Linked DNA regions of Homo sapiens. The protein of the gene in region 1 interacts with the protein of each later gene in a biochemical or structural test. Each region holds a gene or a part of one and is shown in the gene's direction. Other genes may lie near its edges.

Region 1 (16,884 bases):
CCAAAAGAACTGTCTTCGATGATAGAAACGTTCTACATATGTACTTTGCCACATAGCAGCCACTAGCCATACATGGTTATGGCACACCTGAAATGTGGCTGGTGCCACTGAGGAATTAAGTTAATATTTAAAATTTAAATCCCAATACTGGACAGCACGGCTAAACCTTTCCTAACCCTTCACGTTTCTTATGAAGATTATATAGCAGGATATTACAAGCACTAAAAAAGAACTATCTTAAATCTGAAGCAAGATGATTTCCCTAACTAGTACGTTTGTTTGGTAAAAGAGGACGTGCTATTTTTTACAGTTAAATCTAATTCGTAAGTTGTAGAACGTTTTCTTAACAAGGTATCCCTCTCCCAAATTCCGGGAGAGGCTGGCTGCCTTTCCTTTTGCTCCAGCGGTTTATTTGGCATAAAATCTGCAGGCTTACAGGAGCTGACACCAGGGCAGAAAAGAATGAGGAATTTGTTTCCAAGTTGGTCACAGGCCGCTAATCTGACCTAGATGATGTTTAAAATAATATTCAAATACAGCACTTTAAAAAACTATGAAGGCTGAGAAGAAAACGAGAAATGGGAAGCAAGAAGGAAGGCGGAGCGTGCCGGCGACTTCTCAGGGGACTTCCTCAGGGAGTCCCATTCCAGTAACCCCGCGCTACCCACGGACCACCGCCTCTCTCTTGTCGGAAGACGCAAGCCCAAGGGGCGGCTCACCTCGTGCCGCGCGCAGGGACCACGGCCGCCGGGTGGTCCCCTGGCCCCGCCCCCTCCCACCTGGGCACCCCGAGCCCCGCCCCCCGAGCGCCCCGCCCCGCCCCGCCGCCGACTTCGCGCCGCGCTCGGGCGCCGAGTCTGCGCGCTGACGTCCGACGCTCCAGGTACTTTCCCCACGGCCGACAGGGCTTGGCGTGGGGGCGGGGCGCGGCGCGCAGCGCGCATGCGCCGCAGCGCCAGCGCTCTCCCCGGATCGTGCGGGGCCTGAGCCTCTCCGCCGGCGCAGGCTCTGCTCGCGCCAGCTCGCTCCCGCAGCCATGCCCACCACCATCGAGCGGGAGTTCGAAGAGTTGGATACTCAGCGTCGCTGGCAGCCGCTGTACTTGGTGAGTCGCGGACCCACGCGGCAGTCGCCGACCTCCTCCGAGACCCGGACTCGTGCCCTGTCCGCAGGGTCCCTCCCGCCTCCCCCGCCTCTCGCCTCTAGCCTCTCGCTCGGGGCGGAAGTGGCGGCGCGGTCCGCGTCAGGGGCGCGCCTGCGCTGACCGCTCTCTTGCTCCTTTTGGTTTAAAAAAAAAAAAAAAAAAAGCATACTTGAGCTGAGCAGCTCATGGTTAGCGCAAGCGCAGTTAGTTCTGGAGGGCGGTGCCACAGCGGCTTCTTGGGGAGCGCGTGGATGCGCCACCAGCGTTGCGCGGCCCGGGTCTGGGGGTCCTTGGGAAAGCCGTGGGGGCGCTCGGGCGCGCGCCCCCGGGCCGCAGCTTCGCCGTAGCTCCCACGCCGCTGTGCTTGGTTCTTGCTCGCGGACAGCTCTTTCTCTGGCCGGGTGTTTTGTGGCCGGGTGGGCAGCTGGCGTCCCCGGGAGCGGTGAGGGCGGGGGCGGGCGAGCCGGGCCGCGGCGTCCGGGTCCAGCTGGCGCCCGCGCAGGACCTGTGGGAGCAGGCCGCTCTGGGCGCCGGGCCGGCCGCCGCAGCCCTCTGCGAGGCGAAGCTCGCTCTCCTGGCGGAGCCGCGGTGGTTGGGGGTGGCTCGTGGCCTCTGGCGAGGGCAGCGCTCTCGGGACCCTCCGTCTTCATTTTCCCCCGTGGCCCAGCAGCGCCCAGCGTGGGTTCGGCCCCCATAGAACCTTCCCGGAACGAAAGAGGCTTTGCTTGTGTTCGTCCAGTGATAGCGTGTCATTCTCTTTATAGTTTTCCTTACTGAGGTATACTTTCCCTACAGTGAAACGCAGCTTTCATGTGTGCTCCCAGACGGGTGTCACAAATGAATCCCCTCTTGCAAGCCCCCTCAAATCAAAATAGCCTTTCCTTGCCCTGAGAAAGTGCCCTCATCCCCTCCCCGGGGGCACGGTGTTCCGATGCCTATCGCCCTAATCGTGCCTGTTCAGCTCACATAGATGCAATATGTAGTATAAACACCTGTGATTCGCTTTTTTTATGTCAACTAGACTACCTTTTAATTCAAACAAAACTTTATCTCTTTTAAAATGATGTAACTGCTTTCCCCTTCGTTTAATCCTTGTCGTATTATTCCCAAGATTGAATTTGGTGACGGTTAAGTTAATGCTGCTTCTGATGTTTGGTTCTCTCTGTGTAAAGTAAAAGACGGGCTTTCCTGTAAATGGATGATCCTGGGTTTTTCCCCTTTCCATTTAATTAGATGGCAGTGAAAAATGTGTTCAGAAAGTAACGTTTTCTTCTTGAACACATTAGTGGGAAGTATAAATATTCTGATTCCCATGATACAGAGTATGTTAGAATAGGGATCTAAGTTTTAAAGAATGCTGGTAAGGACTCTTCCAATTATAGACAATCTGAAACGCAAATTCTGGTAGGAATCTTCATGTGAGAGAGCCTGCCAGCTGCATCTTCTCCAGTTACATTTGTTTTAGCAGAGGCTGCTGTCTCTCTAAGGGATAGGTTATATATCGAAATAGATTTGAAAAGAGAAAAGTGAATATAACTTAATTCAGCTTAACATTTTGGTTTAAGAAATTTAATTTTCTTTGGTATCATTAATATCCTTGAAAATTCAATGAGAATTGTGATTCCTCTTTCCAGAAAAATGAACTTAACTCGCATCCACTGGAGATTTCACATGCATTTTCAAAAAGATAAGGAAATCCTTCTATAGATTCTTACCGAGGAATCCTGTAGTTTCCTTGGTTGGTCAATGCTCATATTATTTTTTCCTAGTTGAAAACAAGACCATTAGTTTGGTCAGTAGAAACCATGGCATGCACACTGGTGTTACAGTAAAAGTAGGTCACAAACCAAGAAAGTTAGTAATGGAAAGCAAGTCAGGAAGTTTGAGCTATGTGTTCTCCTGTGGCCTTAGAACATCCATTCAGCCATTCCACAAATATGCCCGGACCCCCAGTGGAGTTGCAGCTTTTGCTCCTGGCCTTGGGGATTCAGCAGAGAATGCTCCTGGCAAGTTTCCTACCCTCGAGGTGCTCACTCTAGGGCTTATTCTTTTGGGGCCTCATTGTAGTTCCATATTTTCATTCATTCGTTCATAACATGCTTGTTATGTGCTAGTGTTAGACACTGAGGATTCTTGTTAAAAGACAGGAGTCCCAGTTTTTAAGGATGCAGCCCTGTAAATAGGTAAGCTGATGAAAACGTTAAAGTGATACATGTAAAGCTAGCTTGAAGCACAGGGTCTTGTGGAGTTGAGTTACCTAGGAGTCCTGTATTTCCCAAAAAGGGGTACACATGGGAGTTCTGGTGAAGCTTCTCGAGGGAGGGAGGACCTCACCTAAGTCTTGAAAGACATTGGCCAGGGGAAGAGGACAAGGGAGGTGAAGAGAATTACTGTTCCAGCAAGGAGGGAGTGCACAAAGGCACTGAGGGAATGCTGAGAGAACCACCCACAGTTTAGCCTGGAGACTGGTGTGAAGTTGAGATGCTGGAGAGTAAGGCAGAGCCTAGATCAGACTAAGGAATTTGAGCTGTTTAATAGGAACTCATTGTGGAATTGTAAGTCTGGAAATACCATGATCATATTTGCTTCTTTTTTTTTTGACAGAGTCCCGCTCTGTCGCCCAGGCTGGAGTGCAGTGGTGCGACGTCAGCTCACTGCAACCTCTGCCTCCTGGGTTCAAGTGATTCACTTACCTCAGCCTCCTGCGTAGTTGAAATTACAGGCACACACCACCATGCCCGGTTGATTTTTTTGTACTTTTAGTAGAGACAGGGTTTCGACATGTTGGCCAGGCTGGTCTCGAACTCCTGACCTCAGGTGATCCGCCTGCCTCGGCCTCTCAAAGTGCTGGGATTACAGGCATGAGCCACTGCTCTGGGCTGATCATATTTACTTGTTAGCAAGATCGTTCTGACTGCTAGCAGACTGGATGAGGAAAGTGTAGGCACGCAGCACAGGGCAGTAGTCGGTTGGAGTAAACCTGAAGAGACATGATGAGCTTCTGTTAGGCAGTGGCAGGAGGGATGGAGGGGAGATACAGATTTGAAATGAAATGGTAAAGGGGTATACGTTATGTACAAGTTTGGTTTTGAAACTTTAATTCTGTTTGAGGTACCTGCGAGACACTGAAATGAAGCTAGTTGAATGTATAAATTTGGAGTTCGGGAGAGAGGGTCTGAGTAAATGTGATTTTGGAAATCATGAACACATGGGTGATATTTGAGGTCTTAGACATTGATGAGATCATCTAGGGAAGATACAGAGCGTTTGGAAATATCAAAGGCCAAGGACAGAATCTTGACAGACAACATTTAAAAGGATGGGTGGAGAAAGAGGAACTTGCAAAAAAGACTGGTGAGGAACAACCACAGAAGTGGGGAGGAAAGCAGTGGAGGGAGTTGAGGGTGAGCAGGGCCACCTGACAGGTAAGGGCCAGCCTGAGAGGGCCATGACATTGAGCAGCTAGATTAACAGATACCTTAAAGGGAGTTGTGTCAGCGGACTACACAAGACAGATACCTGGAGTTCAGGAGAGAAGGTAGGAGGAAATGCAAACTACCAAGTGTACACTGCTCTTTTTAGAAGCCCAACTTGAAGAAGTGGGGAGAGGTAGCTAAAATGAAGCAAGATTGTGTGACTTCTCACTTAAACCCTTGAACGGCTTTCCGTTGCTCACAGTGTAAATTCAGCCCCTCCTCCGGCTCACAAGACCTCATGGCCTGTGTCTCTTGCTTGATTTCCCCTATCACTTTCCTCCCTCTTTTCCACTGTGTTGTATTCTTGGAAGTGTGTGTGTCCATTCTCCCCTTAGGGCGTTTGTAAATGTTGTTCTCTTTGCCTTGGCACAACTTTCCCCCCTTCTCTTTCCTTTCTTGCTTAAACTGCCTCCTACTCATCCCTGAAGTCTCACTTCCTTGGCAGGCCTTCTTGACCTGCCCATGCTGGGTATGAGCCCCTGTTGCGTACTTCTTTAGCATCCCAAGACTTCCCCTTTCATAGCGGGAATTGGATGTCATACAGCAGCAAATGATTTCGGGAACACAATTTGCATTAAGCAAACCACTATCTTGAAAGTAACACAGCTTGAGTAGGAAAAAAGTGTTTAAGGTGGCTTTCTGCTTTGTTTAGCACAGCAGTGGGTGATGTTTCTGATAATGTTTTTGAAGAGTTGTGCTTTTTTTGGTAATGCTCATGGAGCTGGGAAAAGAAAGGCTTTGCTCTTGAGCAAAAACTGAGTACAACTAAAAGCTGGACTTGCTTAGTGGTAGGAGAACTTGATACCTTGTTGAAATTCTAGCGGGAAAAATGAATTTAGTATTTTGAGTCTGGAACTCTGGTCCCTTATTCCTTTTTGCTCCTTTTGAAAAGTGTCTTTTATTTCATGAGTTTGATAATAGGAGGTTTCTTAGAAATGAATTATTGGGTTGGAGCAGAACAGACTCTGTTAATCTGAGTTTATATTTTTTATTACTTCTTCAGAGTTTCATGAAGGCACTGCCAGTGCTTTGCACAGTATCAGGTGCTTAGTAAGCACTTGAAAATATGTGCTGAATGAATGACTTTTTACGAGGAAAGGGCAACTTGATATATTTATGTGATTGCAGGGATGAACCTAAAGAGAGAGGTGGAGGTTGAAATAGAAGGGATGATTGTTGGAGCCAGAAATCTTAGAAAGCAAGAGTCAATGGGACCAAGAGCACACAGGTGGAAGAATTGATCGTGAAAGAGTGCTGGCCAGGCGGTGGCTCATCCCTGTAATCCCAGCGCTTTGGGAGGCTGAGGTGGGAGGATCACTTGAGGTCAGGAGGTTAGGGCTGCAGTGAGCCATAATTGTGCCACTGCACTACAGACTAGGTGACAGAGTGAGATCCTGTCTCTAAAACAAGAACAGCAAAACAAAGGGTGCAGTTGGAAAAGTTTAATTTGGTCTGATTGTGTGAGGTTAATTCTGACTTTTTGAGTAATGTTCATGATCCCTTTTTGGCTTTTCCTTTTGTCACTGCTGATTGCTGTCTTCATCAGGCTGAGCTTTGAGAAAGGCAGAGAGAAGGAATGGAGTCTGTGTGCCTACTGAGGAAAAGACTAAAACTGGGGAATCGCAAAAGCTATGTTATGGGTTGTTTCTAAGAAGTGATGGCTCAGAAGGAATTTGGCTTATTTATTTTTAAATTCCTTTCTTTTTTAAAGAGTTCTCACTCTGTTGCCCAGTCTGGAGTACAAGTGCAGTGGTGCAATCATAGCTCACTGCAACCTTAAACTCCTGGGCTCAGGTGAGCCTCTCACCTCAGCCTCTTGGAAATTGGTTGATTAATTAGGGTTTATAAACAATGGAACTCCTGACTGACTTCATTTTTCTTTTTTTGAAACCAAGTCTTGCTCTGTCCCCCAGGCTGGAGTGCAGTAGTGTGATCTCAGCTCACTGCAACCTCTGCTCCCCCCAGGTTCAAGCAGTTCTACTGCCTCAGCCTCCCGAGTAGCTGGGATTACAGGTGCCCACCAGCACGCCCAGCTAATTTTTGTATTTTTAGTAGAAACGGGGTTTCACCATGTTTGTCAGGCTGGTCTTGAACTCCTGACCTCAGGTGATCCACCTGCCTCGGCCTCCCAAAGTGCTGCTGGGATTACAGGTGTGAGCCACCACGCCCAGCCACATTTTTCTTTTTCTTTCTTTTTTTCCTTTTTCTTTCTTTTTTTTTCTTTTTCTTTCTTTTCTTTTTGAGACTGGGTCTCACTTTGTCACCCAGTCTGGAGTGCAGTGGCGTGATCTCAGCTCACTGCAGTCTCGACCTCTTGGGCTTTAGACATCCTCCTGCCTCAGTCCCCCACGTAGCTGGGCCTGGCTAATTTTTTTGTATTTTTTGTAGAGACAGGGTTTAACTATTTTGCCCAGGCTGGTCTTCAACTCCTGAGTTCAAGCAATCTGTCCACCTCAGCCTTCCAAAGGCTTAGGATTACAAGCATGAGCCACTGTGCCTGGCCATTTTTCTTTTTTCTTTTTCTTTTTTTGAGACAGTCTTGCTCTGTTGCCCAGGCTGGAGTGCAGTGGCGTCATCTCGGCTCGCTGCAAGCTCTGCCTCCCAGGTTCACGCCATTCTCCTGCCTCAGCCTTCTGAGTAGCTGGGACTACAGGCGCCCGCCAACACTACAGGCGCCCGCCACCACGCCAGGCTAATTTTTTGTATTTTTAGTAGAGACGGGGTTTGACCGTGTTAGCCAGGATGGTCTTGATCTCCTGACTTTGTGATCCACCTGCCTCGGCCTCCCAAAGTGCTGGGATTATAGGCATGAGCCACTGCGCCTGGCCGCCATTTTTCTTTATTAGAAATTTGTAGTTCAAATATTGCTAGAGAACAATTTTTACCATTTGTGAGTCAGCTAATTTTTAGAAGTCAGATATCAAGTGCACACTGTTCTTCTCATACTTACAGCGGGGCAGCCAGTTAGGCAGGTGAATCAAAGCTGTCTTATTCTAAAACACTTCCCTTGCCTACTAGTTACACATTCTCCTGCCTGCTGTCTAATCTCAGTGCTTTTACATGGTTGCACAAACTCTGAATTCCCTTGAAGATTGGCTACTCTCTCACACCTTGGAGTCTTCATGTGTTGGATATACTCCATGCCTACCATATCTATTTGGGAAACATCTTCAAGACTAGACCGTAGTCTCCTTGGGCAAAGTTAAATGCTCCCCCTTCTCTCATTTCTTAGTTCTCTATATTCTTTTATTAGAATATGAACCACATTGTTTTGTAACTGTCTACTTGTCTGTTCTGTGTAGCTCCTTGAGGGTGGTCTTTTTTTTTCTTTGTTTTCCCACCACCTACCTACGGGACCTGAAACATGTTAGATGCTCAGTAAATATTCAGTAAACACAGGAAAACTGTTCCCTTTTAAAATGTCAGCACCTTAGTTTATTCCAAACCCCTCATTTATGGCTGAGGAAACACTGGGCCAATACAGTGTTGTGACTTATCTGATGTTACAATATCTGCTAGTGTCATAACTGGGACTCAAATCCAGTCCTTCTGATTCTCGTTTCAGCACTGCCCTAATTTACCCATGTGACTACCTGTAGTGCTTTCTTCTTATGATCTATTTGAGATCAGTGGCACAGAGGGAATCGTCTTAATTTTGATGGCTAGGAGGGAGTGGATGTGTTATAATAGGTAGGGTCATTTTGGGACTTGAGGCCTTTAAAACAGTGTCTGGGATCCAGGGATCAGACTTGAAAGGTATTTGCAAATCTCCTGAAACTGCTAAATTTTATGTACGTGTGTTCCCAGGTATTTCGTTTCTAGGTGATTCTGTAGCTTTTGTCAGTTTCTTAGTGGATTTGTCTGTGATCCCTCAAAAGGTAAAGACCACTGCTTGAAGGGAAAGCAGCCTTGGGATGGGTGCCCCAATGGGGAATGTATACCTAGAAATCATATTGTTTTGCCTTTGACATGTGTTTATAGATTACTGATATCTATAATTACGGAAATCCAGATAGTTGCGTTTGTCTCCTAGCTTTTCTAGTTGCCTCTTTTTTGATTTCTTGATTTTAACCAGAATCTTCTTTTTTTCTTGAGAAGGGGTCTCATTCCGTCACCCAGGCTGGAGTGCAGTGGCACGATCGTAGGTCACTGCAGACTCAAAACTCCTGGCTCAAGTGGTCCTTTGCCTCAGCCTCCCGAGAAGCTGGGACTACAGGCACACACCACCACGCCTGACAAATTTCTTCTTCTTCTTCTTCTTTTTGTTGTTGTTCTTGTTGGCCAGGCTGGTCTGGTCTTGAACTCCCGGCCTCAAGTGGTCTGCTCACCTTGGCTTCCCGAAGTGGCGAGATTACAGGCATGAGCCACCATGCCCAGCCCTTAACCAGAATTTTGTTTTGTTTTGTTTTTTGAGACAGGGTCTCACTCTGTCACCCAGACTGGAGTGCAGTGATGAGATCACGGCTCACTGCACAGATGCACGCCACCATGCTTGGCTAATTTTTTATGTTTTGTAGAGACAGGTTCTCACCATGTTGTCCAGACTGGTCTCGAACTCCCGGGCTAAAGCGATCTTCCGGCTTCACCCTTCCATAATGCTGGGGAGCCACAGTGCTTGGCCAACCAGAATCTTAAAAGCCCTTTTTACTTTTTCCAGATAGTTACTCTGCAGAGAATTTCTGATTCCCAGTTGGAGAACTGTTACAGCTCTCTCAGTCCCCTGCTGTTCTTTTAGCTACCTTGTCTTTGTCCTCTTACCTGTCCACTCTCTACTCCCCTTCTTCCCTTTGGTCTCCAAATAGTCCAGATAAACCAGAGAGATGGACAGATAAGGTCTGGGTACGCGAAATTAAAATTAACATAGTGTGCTCTTCACTTTCTTGAATAAACGTTACGTATGATTTGTTTCCCTTGGAAATCCTCATCTAGATTCTCTACTCTCTATTCCTTAACTTAATGCCCCATTAAGGTAGTTTTTTCTTAATGGAAAGCTGTTGAGAGTCAGAGGATATTTAAACCAACTAATAAACTGAACTTTTAATAATACCACCCTTACTTTGGATAAGAGTGATTAGCCATATACTAAATCCTCAATCAGTTTAGCATGTAAAATTTAAGACATAGCAGCTGATAACTGAGGAAGAGATACATTTCCACAGGCTAACTTTAAAGAATATAAGCTCTCACTTTCCTGAGTAGAAGAAAACTAAACTTTTCTGTTCTATGCTTTTTTTTTTTTTAATTTTTATTTTTATTGATCATTCTTGGGTGTTTCTCACAGAGAGGGATTTGGCAGGGTCATAGGACAATAGTGAAGGGAAGGTCAGCAGATAAACAAGTGAACAAAGGTCTCTGGTTTTCCTAGGCAGAGGACCCTGAGGCCTTCCGCAGTGTTTGTGTCCCTGGGTACTTGAGATTAGGGAGTGGTGATGACTGTTAACGAGCATGCTGCCTTCAAGCATCTGTTTAACAAAGCACATCTTGCACTGCCCTTAATCCATTTAACCCTGAGTGGACACAGCACATGTTTCAGAGAGCACAGGGTTGGGGGGTAAGGTCACAGATCAACAGGATCCCAAGGCAGAAGAATTTTTCTTAGTACAGAACAAAATGAAAAGTCTCCCATGTCTACTTCTTTCCACACAGACACGGCAACCATCCGATTTCTCAATCTTTTCCCCACCTTTCCCTGCTTTCTATTCCACAAAACCACCATTGTCATCATGGCCTGTTCTCAATGAGCTGTTGGGCACACCTCCCAGACAGGGTGGTGGCCGGGCAGAGGGGCTCCTCACTTCCCAGTAGGGGCGGCCGGGCAGAGGCGCCCCTCACCTCCCGGGTGGGGCGGCTGGCCGGGCGAGGGGTTGACCCCCCCACCTCCCTCCCGGACGGGGCGGCTGGCCGGGCGGGGGGCTGACCCCCCCACCTCCCTCCCGGACGGGGCGGCTGGCCGGGCGGGGGGCTGAACCCCCCACCTCCCTCCCGGACGGGGCGGCTGGCCGGGCGGGGAGCTGACCCCCCCCCACCTTCCTCCCGGACGGGGCGGCTGGCCGGGCAGAGGGGCTCCTCACTTCCCAGTAGGGGCGGCCGGGCAGAGGCGCCCCTCACCTCCCGGACGAGGCGGCAGGCCGGGCGGGGGCTGATCCCCCCACCTCCCTCCCGGAAGGGGCTCCTCACTTCCCAGTAGGGGCGGCCGGGCAGAGGCGCCCCTCACCTCCCAGACGGGGCGGCTGGCCAAGCGGGGGGCTGACCCCCCCACCTCCCTCCCGGACGGGGCGGCTGGCCGGGCGGGGGGCTGAACCCCCCACCTCCCTCCCGGACGGGGCGGCTGGCCGGGCGGGGGGCTGACCCCCCAACCTCCCTCCCAGATGGGGCGGCTCGCCTGGCGGGGGCTGACCCCCACCTCCCTCCTGGACGGGGCGGCTGCCAGGTGGAGACGCTCCTCACTTCCCAGACAGGGTGGCTGCCGGGCGGAGGGGCTCCTCACTTCTCAGACGGGGCGGCTGCCGGGCGGAGGGTCTCCTCACTTCTCAGACGGGGCGGTTGCCAGGTGGAGGGTCTCCTCCCTTCTCAGATGGGGCGGCTGGGCAGAGACGCTCCTCACCTCCCAGACGGGGTCGCGACCGGGCAGAGGCGCTCCTCACATCCCAGACGGGGCGGCGGGGCAAAGGCACTCCCCACATCTCAGACGATGGGCAGCCGGGCAGAGACGCTCCTCACTTCCTAGATGGGATGGCGGCCGGGCAGAGATGCTCATCACTTTCCAGACTGGGCAGCCAGGCAGAGGGGCTCCTAACATCCCAGACGATGGGTGGCCAGGCAGAGACGCTCCTCACTTCCTAGACGGGGTGGCGGCCAGGCAGAGGCTGCACTCTGGGCACTTTGGGAGGCCAAGGCAGGCGGCTGGGAGGTGGAGGTTGTAGCGAGCCGAGATCACGCCACTGCACTCCAGCCTGGGCACCATTGAGCACTGAGTGAACCAGACACCGTCTGCAATCCCGGCACCTCCGGAGGCCGAGGCTGGCGGATCACTCGCGGTTAGGAGCTGGAGGCCAGCCCGGCCAACACAGCGAAACCCCGTCTCCCCCAAAAAAATACGAAAACCAGTCAGGCATGGCGGCGCGCACCTGCACTCGCAGGCACTCTGCAGGCTGAGGCAGGAGAATCAGGCAGGGAGGTTGCAGTGAGCCGAGATGGCAGCAGTACAGTCCAGCTTCGGCTCGGCATCAGAGGGAGACTGTGGAAAGAGAGGGAGAGGGAGACCGTGGGGAGACGGAGACCGTGGGGAGAGGGAGAGGAGGCAGAGGGAGAGGGAGAGGCTTTTTTTTTTTTTTCTTGAGACGGAGTCTTACTCTGTCAACCAGGCTGGAGTGCAGTGGCACGATCTTGGCTCACTGCAACCTCCACCTCCCTGGTTCAAGTGATTCTCCTGCCTCAGCCTCCCAAGTAGCAGGGACTACAGGCATGCGCCACCACACCCAGCTAATTTTTGTATTTTTAGTAGAGATGGGGTTTCGCTGTGTTGGCTGGGCCAGTCTTGAACTCCTGACCTCAGGTGATCCACCCACCTTGGCCTCCCAAATTGCTGGGATTACAGGCGTGAGCCACCGCGTCCAGCCTGTTACATTCTTAATTGGAATAGCATTGCCCTGCAGTGCCATTATCTGAAATAGCTTTTAAGAATGAATGTAATGCCATTTTAAATGTATTTAAATGTTGTGCCGATTTAATGTTCTATGTACGGTACAGTACTACTAATGGTTCAAGAAGTTGTTTTGACTTAACAGTGAAATCCTTGCTTTTAAAGATCATAGATACCTTTAGACACCTTTAAGATGAAACATGTTTATGAGAGGAAATGTCCGCACAAATACAATCCCCCGCAAACTTAGCATGTGGTTTTAGTAGGTTCATAGGCCCACCTGGTGATCCCTAGGATAAGAAATTGTGGTCAAGAAACTGATTTCAGGGGCCGGGCTGGTGGCTTACACCTGTAATCCCAGCACTGTTTGTCTCAAAACAAAGAAACTGGCTCAAGGTTGGATACTTTTCAAACGAGAGGAATGGAGGAAGGGAATGCAATGAATAACTTTTCAAATCCAGTATGTCTGATTTAATATGCCGTTTGCTCTGTCAGTTTCATTTGGTTCGTGTCACTGATCATTTATAACCTTTTTTCAAACTGCTTTCATTCCCCTAAGGAAAATCTGATACTGAATTATTTTATTTCTTCTTTCACTATATTTGAACGGTTTTATAGTCTGAAAGCTATCAATTTCTCATTACAGTTTACTTCATAGTACTTCTAGGAATTCTTCCTGTGGTTTGAGGTAAGGCTACAGGATTCCTAGAGTTTGTACCCCTCTAGTCCCAGTAAAGGACCTGGTACATCAATCAGGGTAGCCCTAGAAAGTTGGAGTAACTTCGTAACAGTGGGAACTGCTTCTGTTCTATGTTTTTTGTGGGTTTTTTATTTGTTTTTGTTTTTTTGTTTTTTTGTTTTTTTTTTGAGACAGAGTCTTGCTCTGTGGCCCCAGGCTGGAATGCTACGGCACGATCTCGGCTTACTGCAACCTCTGCATGCTGAGTTCAAGCGATTCTCCTGCCTCAGCCTCCTCAGTAGCTGGGATTACAGGCGTGCACCACCACGCCCAGCTAATTGTTGTATTTTTAGTAGAGACAGGGTTTCCCCATGTTGGCCAGGCTGGTCTTGAACTCCTGACTTCAAGTGATCAGCCCACCTCTCAGAGAGCTGGGATTATACATGTGAGCCAACATGCCTGCCCTGCCTCATTCTTTATACTACAGTAAAGTCCCGGTTGGGCAATAATCTAAACATAAAAGAAATGAAACCATAAAATTATATAAGAAAACAATGGAGAAAATTTTTTGTAATCAACAGAGTGAAAAAGGATTTTTTAATGCCATGTCACAGAAACCTAGAGAAAAAAGGTTTAAGTTTGATTTCATAAAAATTTAAATTTTTGACATAAATACCATAAAGGTCAAAAGATAAAAAATTTTAAATATTTTCAATATATAACAAAAACTAAACTTTCTTAATATGTAAAGAACTACATATCAAAAAGAGAGCGGAAATACAGATGGCTTTTAAAAACAGGTAAAGCTGTTCACCTTCACAATAATAACAATTTCAAATTATGACTATAATAATACCATTTTTCACCTATCAGACAAAGATGAAAAAGTTCATTAATATAATTGTGTAGGTGAAGCTCAGGCACTTTCTTATATTATTGGTGACAGTATACATTGATATAGCTTCTTTGAAAGGTTATTCATAGCAGCATTATTTATAACAGCTAAAACCTAGAAATAACCTATGTGTCCCATTATAGATGACTGGCTAAGTGATGAATACTATTAAATTGTTAAAAAGAACTCATTATCTATATGGAAGTACTTTTAATATATACTAAGTGAAAAATCAAAGTGCAAAACAGTATGCTAATATCTGTTTTGTGAGGGTGGGATGGATACTTGGATGGAGGAAGACAGACAGGCAGTCTGGCTTATATATGGATAGAATGTCTCGGAAAATATACAAGGCACTGGTTACAGTTATCACCTAAGGGAAAGGATTGAGGGAGAGGAGAATGTGACTTAACTTTTTCACTATATACCCTTTTGTACGGTTTAATTTTTGCCAAGTCCATGTAATCCATGTATACATAGGGAGCATATGTATATAAATATATGTAAATATAAGTAAAAAAATATGTATGTGCTGCCGGGCGCGGTGGCTCACTCCTGTAATCTCAGCACTTTGGGAGGCCGAGGTGGGCGGATCATGAGGTCAGGAGATCGAGACCATCCTGGCTAACACGGTGAAACCCCGTCTCTACTAAAAACACAAAAAAAGTAGCCGGGCGTGGTTGCGGGCGCCTGTAGTCCCAGCTGCTCGGGAGGCTGAGGCAGGAGAATGGTGTAAACCTGGGAGGTGGAGCTTGCAGTAAGCCAAGATCGCGCCACTGCACTCCAGCCTGGGCAACAGAGTGAAACTCTGTCTCAAAAAAAAAAAAAAAACAACACGCTTTTCTCTCTCTCTCTCTCTCTCTCTCTCTCTCTCTCTCTATATATATATATATATATATACACATATATATATACGTATATATATACATATATATACGTGTATATATACATATATACGTATATATATGTATATATACACATATATATACACATATATATGTATATATATACATATATATACACATATATATGTATATATACACATATATATGTATATGTATATATATACATATATATATATATGCTAAAGTTAAGTACTGGATTCCTATCTGTATCTGCTACCTAACTGCAGTATAAATCTTGGAAGTTGAGTCTGTTTTCTCATTTGTAACCACCTCTTAGATAACACACATAAAAGCACATAGCACATGCCTGACACACAGTAGGGTTCAGTGACAGTGAGCTGTTTTAGTCTCTAAACTCTCTTCCTCAAAGAGAGCTTCTCAAAGAAAAAAAAATGTAGTGAAGAAAAGAACTTACTCCACCAGGGATCTTCTCTCCCCAGCCAGTGGCAGGCATATTAAGGGCTATAAGTAAGTGGTTATTTTACCATCCTAAAGTAATGGTGTTTCAAAGTATGCAAGATTCTTCATACTTCACTGTGTCCTTTTCTGAGCATCTTTGTAGAGAGTATATGCACAAACATCTGACTAACAAAGGGAACACTTTTCATCATATAATTTAGGATTCACTTAGAGACCTAAAGTATAAAGAAAGAAACTTAGGTATGTTAGCCCATAAGGAGAAACTCATTATCAATTTGGGATTATCTTAAGGTCCTACCTTATAAAATTAAAATTTAACAGAAGATTATTCTTTTTCAATTTCCTAAGTTCTTATTTGCTACTACATCGTAGCAGTTCGAGGGAGAATTTGGTCTAACGATGTAATGTTTTCTGTATGCCATACATAGAACAAAGCTATGTACGAAATACTAAAAATATTATTTGACATTATTTAATAAAATATTATAACTATTTCACCCCGATAATGATGGAAATTAAGTTGCAGTAATATAGATTTTTAAAATAAAAACTTCAAAACCAGGCGCCATGGCTCACGCCTGTGATACCAGCGCTTTGGAAGGCCGAGGCAGGCAGATTGCTTGAGACCAGGAGTTTGAGACCAGTCTAAGCAACATAGCAAATAAAAATAAAAAATTAGCCAGGCATGGTGGTGTGCCTGCAGTCCCACCTACTTGGGAGGCTGAGGTGGGGGGATCACTTGAGCCCCTGAAGTCAAAGCTGCAGTGAGCTGTGATCACACCACTGCATTCCAGCCTGAGTGACAAGGCAAGACTTTGTCTCAAAAATATAAGTAAAATAAAATTAAAATTTTACTTGTTTATTTTTTTGAGACGGCGTCTCTCTTTTTCCCAGGCTGGGGTGTAGTGGTGTGTTCTCGGCTCACCGTAACCTCTGCCTCCGGAGTTCAAGCGATTCTCCTGCCTCAGCCTCCCGAGTAGCTGGGATTACAGGTACGTGCCACTATGCCCAGCTAGTTTTTGTACTTTTAGTAGAGACAGGGTTTTGCCATGTTGGCAAGGCTGGTCTCAAACTCCTAATGTCAAGTGATCCGCCTGCCTGGGCCCCGCAAAGTGTTGGGATTACAGGCGTGAGCCACCGCACCCAGCCTTAAAACTTTAAAATTCAGAATATGAGCCTTTGTTTTATAGCTTCACTTGTTAAAACAAATCAGGAGCTGGGTGTGGTAGCTCACGCCTGTAATCCCAGCACTTGGGGAGGCTGAAGCGGGCAGATCACCTGGTCTCAATCTCCCTGAACTCGTGATCCGCCCGCCTCAGCCTCCCAAAGTGCTGGAATTACAAACGTGAGCCACCACGCCCGGCCTGAAGTTTGAAGTTTTTAAAAAGAAAGAGTTGTTAGGCATAATTGTGTAAATAGAGGTAAAAATTGACAGCAAGAAAGGCAGTAGAAAACTATGACAAATGAAGGTGATGGCTCACGCCTGTAATCCCAGCACTTTGGGAGGCCAAGGCGGGCGGATCACCTGAGGTCAGTAGTTCAAGACAAGCCTGGCTAACATGGTGAGACCCTGTCTCTACTAAAAAATACAAAAATTAGCCAGGCATGGTGATGTGCACCTGTTATCCCAGTCACTTGGGAGGCTGAGGCAGGAGAATTCACTTGAACCCGGGAGGCGGAGGTTACAGTGAGCTGAGATGGCGCCACTTCACTCCAGTCTCTC
Region 2 (8,843 bases), on another chromosome or scaffold:
CTGGCCTGCATAGACGTTTTATGTTATCCTTGAAGCTAAAAATGGATTGGAAGTTAACAGCGTTTTGATAAATGTACCGTATTTTGGCCAGAGGTGGAACTGAGTTGTGAGGGTGAAGACCAGGGAAAATAAAGTGGAAGACGTGGAAGCACAAAACGTCTCAGAGGCCTGGAACCATTCAGCTGATCTTAGAGTATGCTCACACCCCAGCACCCTGGAGACCGCCTTTGCTGTAAAAAATTGGTATCTCTTTTTTTTTTTTCCCTGAGACAGAGTCTTACTCTTGCCCAAGCTGGAGTGCGGTGGCGCCATCTCAGCTCACTGCAACCTCTGCCTCCCGAGTTCAAGCGATTCTCCTGACTCAGCCTCCTGAGTAGCTGGGACTACAGGTGCCCGCCACCACGCCAGGCTAATTTTTGTATTTTTAAGTAGAGTTGGGTTTTCACCATGTTGGCCAGGCTGGTCTCAAAATCCTGACTTCAAGTGATCTGCCCGCCTCGACCTCCCAAAGTGCTGGGATTATAGGCGTCAGCCACAGCGCCCAGCCAAGAGACTGATATTTCTACATCCCTTGAATTCCAGTTGCCTTTTTCTTTCTTTTATATTTTCCTTTTTGGTAGAGACAGGGTCTTCCCATGTTGCCAAGGCTGGTCTTGAACTTCTGGCCTCAAGTGATCCTCCTGCCTTGCCCTCCCAAAGCACTAGGATTACAGTCAGAACCCAGTGAGCCCAGCCTCAGATGACTTTTTCTAGTGGAAGGAAAGGTTGTCAACTCGAGAATTCTTTCTCAAAGAAAGCTGGCCAAGTCCTGAGCCCCTCTTGCATTCCATTTGCATACCTCTGTGCTGAAGGAGGGACCCTCCTTTGGGGAGTTTACAGTTGGACGGTCCTTGGGTTGCTCCCTGGCGTGCAGAATGAACCAGTCTGAGCAGTAGAACCACCACACTGCAGGTGCCGTCCCTTTCTAACGTCGGTTTGGCCATATCAAAGTATGATTGTCCCAGTAGCAGGTCTTCAGGTGGCTGGTGCCTGACACAGGTGATGGTAATTAACATGAAACCTAACACCGGCTGTTGATCCAAATTGAGTTAAGATGGCTGGGCACAGTAGCTCACTCCTGTAAGTAATCCCAACACTTTGGGAGGCCAAGGTGTCTGCGTCGCTTAAGCTCAGGAGTTTGAGACCACCCTGGGCTACAGGGTGAAACCCTGTCTCTACTAAAATACAAAAAATTAGCTGGGCGTGGTGGCCGGGCAGTGGTGGCGTGCACCTGTAGTCCCAGCTGCTTGTGGGGCTGAGGTGGGAGGATCGCTTGAGCCTGGGAGGCAGACGTTGCAGTGAGCCGAGATTGTGCCACTGCACTCCAGCCTGGGCGACAGTAAGATTCTGTCTCAAGTAAGTAAATGAGTTGAGATTAACTGGCCTCTTTATTTTGAGGTCCAAATTGAGGTACTGTCATGTGATCAAGGGCTTGTAGCATTCTGAAATTATACCTGATTAGAGGGGTCAAAACCTCCACCAGGTGGCTTGAATTGAGTGAAGGGTGCTCCTGTGTCAGTTCAGGGGACTGGTAAACGAGAAGGCCTGAGCCCTCCCCAGTTACCACCTTCGAAAATAGGGGCCCAGTATTTGCCGTATCTAGTCAGCACCAAGAGAAATCAGAAGTCAAGATTTTTAGATTTCCAATCCGGATTTTTAAAAAACAAACTTTGGCTGGGCATGGTGTCTCATGCCTGTAATCCCAGTATATTGGGAGGCTGAAGCAGGCGGATCACTTGAGGTCAGGAGTTTAAGACCAGCCTGGACAATATGGCAAAACCCCATCTCTACTAAAAATACAAAAATTAGGCAGGTGTGATGGTGCACGCCTGTAATCCCAGCTACATGGTAGGCTGAGGCAGGAGAATCACTTGAACCCAGGAGATGGAGGTTGCAGTGAGCCAAGATCACCCTACTGCACTCCAGCCTGGGAAACACAGCGAGACTCTGTCTCAAAAAAATAATAATAATAACCACCACCAAAAAAACAGATTTTAAAAAAAGAAACTTTGAGGGCAAAACAAAAAGTGTCTACAGGCTGTATTTGGCTCCTGTACTCCCCTTTTTGTCTAGAGTAACGTAATTTGCAGTCATTTGTAAAAATCACAAGAATGGCTATAAGAGAAAACCTGCTACATGATGCTGTTTTGGTGAAAATTGGTATGCTCTTTACCATTGAAACAGTTACCTTTTTCATATATCTGCTTCTCTATTTATAACCACCTCTCTAGTCTACCCTACTGTATCCACTCGCCTGGACTATTGTAGTATCTGCCATCTCCACCAAGCAATCAGAGGCAACTTCTAAAAAACAAATCAGATCGAGGGCTGGGTGTGGTGGCTCATGCCTATAATCCCAGCACTTTGGGAGACTGAGGTGGGAGGATCACTTGAGCCCAGGAGTTCCAGACCAGCCTGGGCAACACAGCAAGACCCCAGTCTGTACAAAAAATAAATTAGCCGGGTGTCGTGGTGCGTGCCTGTAATCCCAGCTACTTGGGAGGCAGAGGTGGGAGGATCGCTTGAGCCAAGGAGGCCGAAGATGCAGTGAGCCGTGATCATGATGCTGCACACCAGCCTGGGCAACAGAGTGAGACTCTGTCTCTAAAATTAAACAACAACAAGAAAAACACATAACCTCCCATAAATCTGATCATGTCATTTCTAAAAGAAAGCTAAACTCTGGCCGGGCGCAGTGGCCGGGCGTGGTGGGATTTACGCCTGTAAATCCCAGCACTTTGAGAGGCTGAGGCAGGCAGATCACCTGAGGTCAGGAGTTTGAGACCAGCATGGCCAACATGGTGAAACCCCATCTCTACTAAAATACAAAAATTAGCCGGGCATGGCGGCATGCGCCTGTCATCCCAGCTACTTGGGAGGCTGAGGCAGGAGAATTACTTGAACCCTGGGAGGTGGAGGTTACAGTGAGCCAAGTTCGTGCCATTGCACTCCAGCCTGGGCAACACAGTGAGACTCCGTCTCCAAAAAAATAATAATAAAATTTAAAAAAAAGAATTGAGTGGGCCAGGTGCCGTGACTCAACCCTGTAATCCCAGCACTTTGGGAGTCCAAGGTGGGAGGATCACTTGAACTGAGGAGTTTGAGACCAGCCTGGGCAACAGGGCGAAACTCCGTCTCTACAAAAAATACAAAAATTAGCTGGGCGTGGTGGTGCATGCCTATAGTCCCAGCTACTTGGGAGACTGAGGTGGATCACTTGAGGCCAGAAGGTCGAGGAGGCAGTGAGCTATAATTGTACCACTGTACTCCAGGCTGGGCAACAGAGCAAGACCCCGTCTGTAAAAAAAGACACAAGTGTGAAGATTGTAGGCTTGGGCTTGACCAAGTGCAACAAGCAGCCATGTCACATCATGGGGGTGGGGAGTGGGGTGTCTGTCTTCTTGGCCTTGATATTTACCTCTGCTACTTTAAACTCCCCTGCAGGTTTTAGAGTTTTTGTTCATTTGTGAAAAAACACTAACTTACCTGATTTGAAGGTTTAATTTTTGTGGCTTTCTGGTAAAGGGAGGTACAACAGGAAATAGAATCTGAAGGAATAAGGGGGACAGCCCCACGCCTTTTTTTTTTTTTTCTTGTTCTTCAGAACATGCTTTACCCTCGCTTGAGGCCAGGAGCTTGAGAAGCCTGGGCAACATAGTGAGACACCATCACTACAAAACATTAAAAGTTAGTTGAATGTAGTGGTGCATGCCTGTAGTCCCAGCTACTTGGGAGGCTGAGGTGGGAGGATCACCTGTGCCTGGGAGTTCAAGGCTACAGTAAGCTATGATCCCACCACTGCTCTCCAGCATGGGTGACAGAGTGAGACTAAAAAGAAAAAGCCATACCCATCCTCTTCATTGCAGGAATGTTAGAATCTGTTTCATGAGTAATAAGGCCTAAGGAACTCCATTTTCCAAATTTGTTTAGGGAGCCCCTCCTCCCTAGATCTCTAGTTTGTAGGGCAGTGAGGCATTTTAAGGAGGTTAATACCTCTTTAGGATGAAAGATGATTAAATGAGAAAATGATGCAGACAGTTGTATACTGAGAATGGTTATGATTTTAAAATACTATTTGCAAGCAAGCCTTAATCTCCTGGAGTTCTTAGCATCCTTCTTATTTATACAGAATCTGAAATACAAGGCAGTTAAATGGAATCAATACCAAATACTAAATTTAGTAAAAGCAAGATTAAAAATGGTACTGTGAATCTGCTATAATTTAACAAGTCATGCCTACAACTTTTCAGTTATATGGCCTGTGGGAAGAACGAAGTGTTTCTTAGTCCTAGATCATATATATATATATATATATATATATATATATATATATATATATATATGAAATTATTATTATTTTTTTGAGACGGAGTTTCACTCTTGTGGCTCAGGCTGGAGTGCAGTGGTGTGATTTTGGATCACTGCAACCTCCGCTTCCCAGGTTCAAGCGATTCTCCTGCCTCAGCCTCCTGAGTAGCTGGGATTACAGGTGCCTGGTACCACGCCCAGCTAATTATTGTATTTTTAGTAGAGACGGGGCTTCACCATGTTGGCCAGGCTGGTCTTGAACTCCTGACCTCAGGGGATCCACCCTCCTCGGCCTCCCAAGGTGCTGGGATTACAGGTGTAAGCCACTGCACCTGGCCAATTTTTTCTTTTCTTTTCTCTTCCTCTTTCTTTCTTTCTTTTTTCTTTTTTTTTTTTGAGAAAGCGTCTTCCTCTGTCATCCAGGCTGGAGTGCAGTGGTGCGATCATAGCTCACTACAGCCTCCAGCTCCTGGACTCAAGCCATCCTCCCACTTCAGCCTTCTGAGTAGCTGGGGCTACAGGCATGTGCCACCATGCCTGGTTGATTTTTTCATTTTGTTTCTAGATGGGGTCTCACTATGTTGCCCAGGGTGGTCTCGAACTCCTGGCCTCAACTAATCCTCCTGCCTCAGCCTCCCAAAGTGCTGAGATTACAAGTGTGAGCCATCATACCTGGCCCTGCTTAGTCTTTTGTTTTTGTCTTTTATGTCTTTCTATGTTGGACTTTTGGGTTGCTTTCACTTTTTGGCTATTGTGAATAATGTTACTACGAACATTTGCATGTAAGCTTTGTGTGGACATCGGTTTTTATTTCTCTTGGGTGTATACTTAGAGCAGAATTGCTGGATCATATGTAACTCCTCTAACCATTTCAAAAAGATCACTTTTTTTTTTGAGACAGAGTCTCGCTTTGTCACCCAGGCTGCAGTGCAATGGTGTGATCTTGGCTCACTGCAACTTCTGACTTCTGGGTTCAAGTGATTCTCCTGCCTCCCGAGTAGCTGGGATTACAGGTGCCTACCACCATGCCCAGCTAATGTTTGTATTTTTAGTAGAGTCGGGGTTTTGCCATGTTAGCTGGGCTGGTCTCCAGCTCCTGGGCTCAAGAGATCCACCTGCCTCGGCCTCCCAGAGTGCTGGGATTACAGGTGTGAGCCACCGCACCCAGCCTAGACACTGTTTCTATAAGACAGAAAGAGAGAGAGAGAAAGAGAAAGTAAGAAACAAAGAAAAAGAAAGAAAAAAGAAAGGAAAGAAAATGAAGCTTTAAGAAGAGACTGTCTGCTTGGTATACCAACCTAATACCAGCACCTAGAACAGCACCTGGCACCTGGCGTAGGGTAGGTTCTTAATGAGTGATTGCTCATTGAATGTGTGGCAGAAAATCTTTAGAATCTTGAATCAAAGGTTTTCAGCACTTGCAATTTTTTTTTTGAGATGGAGTCTTGTTCTTGTCGCCCAGGCTGGAGTGCAATGGTATGATCTTGGCTCACTGCAGCCTCCACTTCTCGGGTTCAAGTGATTCTCCTGCCTCAGCCTCCCAAGCAGCTGGGATTACAGGTGCCCACCACCATGCCTGGGTAATGTTTGTATTTTTAGTAGAGACAGAGTTTCACCGTGATGGCCAGGCTGGTCTTGAACCCCTGACCTCAGGTGATCTACCCACCTTGGCCTCCCAAAGTGCTGGGATTACAGGGGTGAGCCACTGCACCTGGCGCGCACTCATAATTTTTTTTTTTTTTTTTGACAGAGTCTTGCTCTGTGGCCCAGGCTAGAGTGCGGTGGCGCGATCTCAGCTCACTGCAAGCTCCACCTCCTGGGTTCACGCCATTCCCCTGCCTCAGCCTCCCGAGTAGCTGGGACTACAGGCTCCCACCACTACACCTGGCTAATTTAAAAAAAATTTTTTTTTAGTAGAGGCAGGGTTTCACCACGTTAGCCAGGATGACAGTGCTCATAATAATAATAATAATTATTATTATTATTTTTTTGAGACAGAGTCTTGCTCTGTCACCCAGGCTGGAGTACAGTGGCGCGATCTCCGCTCACTGCAAGCTCCGCCTCCCGGTTCACACCATTCTCCTGCCTCAGCCTCCCGAGTAGCTGGGACTACAGGCGCCCGCCACCAGGCCCAGCCAATTTTTTGTATTTTCGTAGAGATGGGGTTTCACCGTGTTAGCCAGGATGGTCTCAATCTCCTGACCTCCTGATCTACCCTCCTTGGCCTCCCAAAGTGCTGGGATTTCAGGGGTGAGCCACTGTGCCTGGCCAGCACTCATTTTTTTTTTTGGGACAGAGTCTTGCTGTGTCGCCCAGGCTGGAGTGCAGTGGCACGATCTCAGCTCACTGCAAGCTGCACCTCCTGGGTTCATGCCATTCCCCTGCCTCAGCCTCCCGAGTAGCTGGGACTGTAGGTTCCCACCACCACACCTGGCTAATTTTTTGAATTTTTTTTTTTTTTTTTTTTAGTAGAGACAGGGTTTCACCATGTTAGGCAGGATGACAGCTTTCATAATTTTTTTTTTTTTTTTTTTGAGATGGAGTCTCACTCTGTCGCCCAGGCTGGAGTGCAGTGGCGCCATCTCGGCTCACTGCCAGCTCCGCCTCCCGGGTTCACGCCATTCTCCTGCCTCAGCCTCCCGAGTAGCTGGGACTATAGGTGCCCACCACCACGCCCGGCTAATTTTTTGTATTTTTAGTAGAGACAGGGTTTTACCGTGTTAGCCAGGATGGTCTCGATCTCCTGACCTCGTGATCCGCCCGCCTCGGCCTCCCAAAGTGCTGGGAATAATCCCACCATGCCCAGCCAGCACTCATAATTTTTTAAGTCATTGTCAACCTGCCCTCCTTCGAGTCTGTTATCCTGAATTCCCTCCCTGGCAATGTTGGGGAAGCTGTGGGTGGTCTGTATTTGCCCTTCAGCCAACTCCAGGTGCAGCACGGCCTCCGTGCTTCAGCCGACTCCAGGTATGGCACGGCCTCTGCCCTTCTACTGAAGTGTACTTACCCATGTTGGGGCTGTGTCTGTACACACATGCAGTGGTCGCTTCTCCGTCCTCCACCGCACCAACCCTCTCAGCAGCGTTTTGTCCTTCCCTGAAACACTTTTGGTCATGATGATGATAGTAGCTGCTGTTGATTCTGATCGACAGCAGCTGGGATGCCCTTAGGATGCTAGTCAGAGAAGAGTAGTCAGAGAAGATTCTGGCTGCTTCTCATACATCGAATCTTCACAGAATCCTGGGAGGGGCCGGGCGCGGTAGCTCATGCCTGTAATCCCAGCACTTTGGGAGGCCGAGGCGGGCGGATCACCTGAGGTCAGGAGTTTGAGACCAGCCTGGTCAACATGGAGAAACCCCATCTCTACTAAAAATACAAAAATTAGCTGGGTGTGGTGGTGCATGCCTGTAATCCCAGCTACTCAGGAGGCTGAGGCAGGAGAAGTGCTTGAACCCAGGAGGTGGAGGTTGCAGTGAGCTGAGATCATGCAGCTGCACTCCAGCCTGGGCGGCAGAGTGAGACTCATGCTCCCTGCGGAAAGTCAGTTGCCTGACGCCGAGCTGGCACCCGGCCTCTGCACACTCTCCTCTCCTTGTGATCGCACCTGTGAGCATCCAGGGGACCGGGAGGGGGAGACAGGGCAGTGGTTAAGAGAGGGGTACGGCTGGGCACAGTGGCTCTTGCCTGTAATCCCAGCACTTTGGGAGGCTGAGGTGGGTGGATCATGAGGTCAGGAGATCGAGACCATGGTGAAACCCTGTCTCTACTAAAAATACAAAACATTACCCAGGCGTGGTGGCGGGCGCCTGTAGTCCCAGCTACTCCGGAGGCTGAGGCAGCGGAATGGCGTGAACCTGGGAGGCGGAGCTTGCAGTGAGCTGAGATTGCTCCACTGCACTCCAGCCTGGGCGACAGAGCGAGACTCCGTCTCAAAAAAAAAAACAAAAAAAGGGGTACACAGCTGGTTTTATAGGGGCAGATGATTTATTTTTTATGGAGATGGGGTCTTGCTATGTTGCCTAGACTGGTCTCAAACTCCTAGGCTCAAACGATCCTCCCACCTCGACCTCCTGAGTAGCTGGGACCACAGGTGTGTGCACCACACCCAGCTAATTTTTTAATTTTTTGTAGAGATGGGGGTCTTGCTGTGTTGCTCAGGCTGGTCTCCGGCTCCTAGGCTCAAGTGATCTCCCCACCTCGGCCTCCCAAAGTACTGGGATTACAGGTGTGAGCCACCACACCTGGCCATCAGGTGTGATTTAGACGTGCCAAGTGGCGAGTAGCAGGAACTCAGTGATGTTAGTGTGTTCCTTGTGATCATGATTCAGCCTAATTTAGAAGTGCTGTGGTCATTGCTGTTTCTCCTCCTCTAGGCTGTGTGGAAATCCGGGGGTTTGTTTCTGCTACCTCCAGTCTGATCATTTGGGCCATGAGCACAGTGAGTTAAGGTGTGCTAGCGTTCACACCTGAGGGGTGTGGAGCTGGCCCATCTGGGA

Evidence for each region.
Region 2: the proteins of PTPN2 (region 1) and FAM220A form a complex in vitro, tested with the Homo sapiens proteins (one study listed by BioGRID).

The regions. Positions count from the first base shown.
Region 1 is NC_000018.10:12,868,294-12,885,177, reverse strand, and holds the start of PTPN2 (tyrosine-protein phosphatase non-receptor type 2), read left to right. Parts: upstream 1-940; 5' UTR 941-1,036; coding exon 1,037-1,105; intron 1,106-16,884. UniProt on the Homo sapiens protein: Non-receptor type tyrosine-specific phosphatase that dephosphorylates receptor protein tyrosine kinases including INSR, EGFR, CSF1R, PDGFR.
Region 2 is NC_000007.14:6,338,937-6,347,779, reverse strand, and holds part of FAM220A (protein FAM220A), read left to right. Parts: intron 1-8,843. UniProt on the Homo sapiens protein: Promotes dephosphorylation of transcriptional activator STAT3 by interacting with both STAT3 and protein phosphatase PTPN2.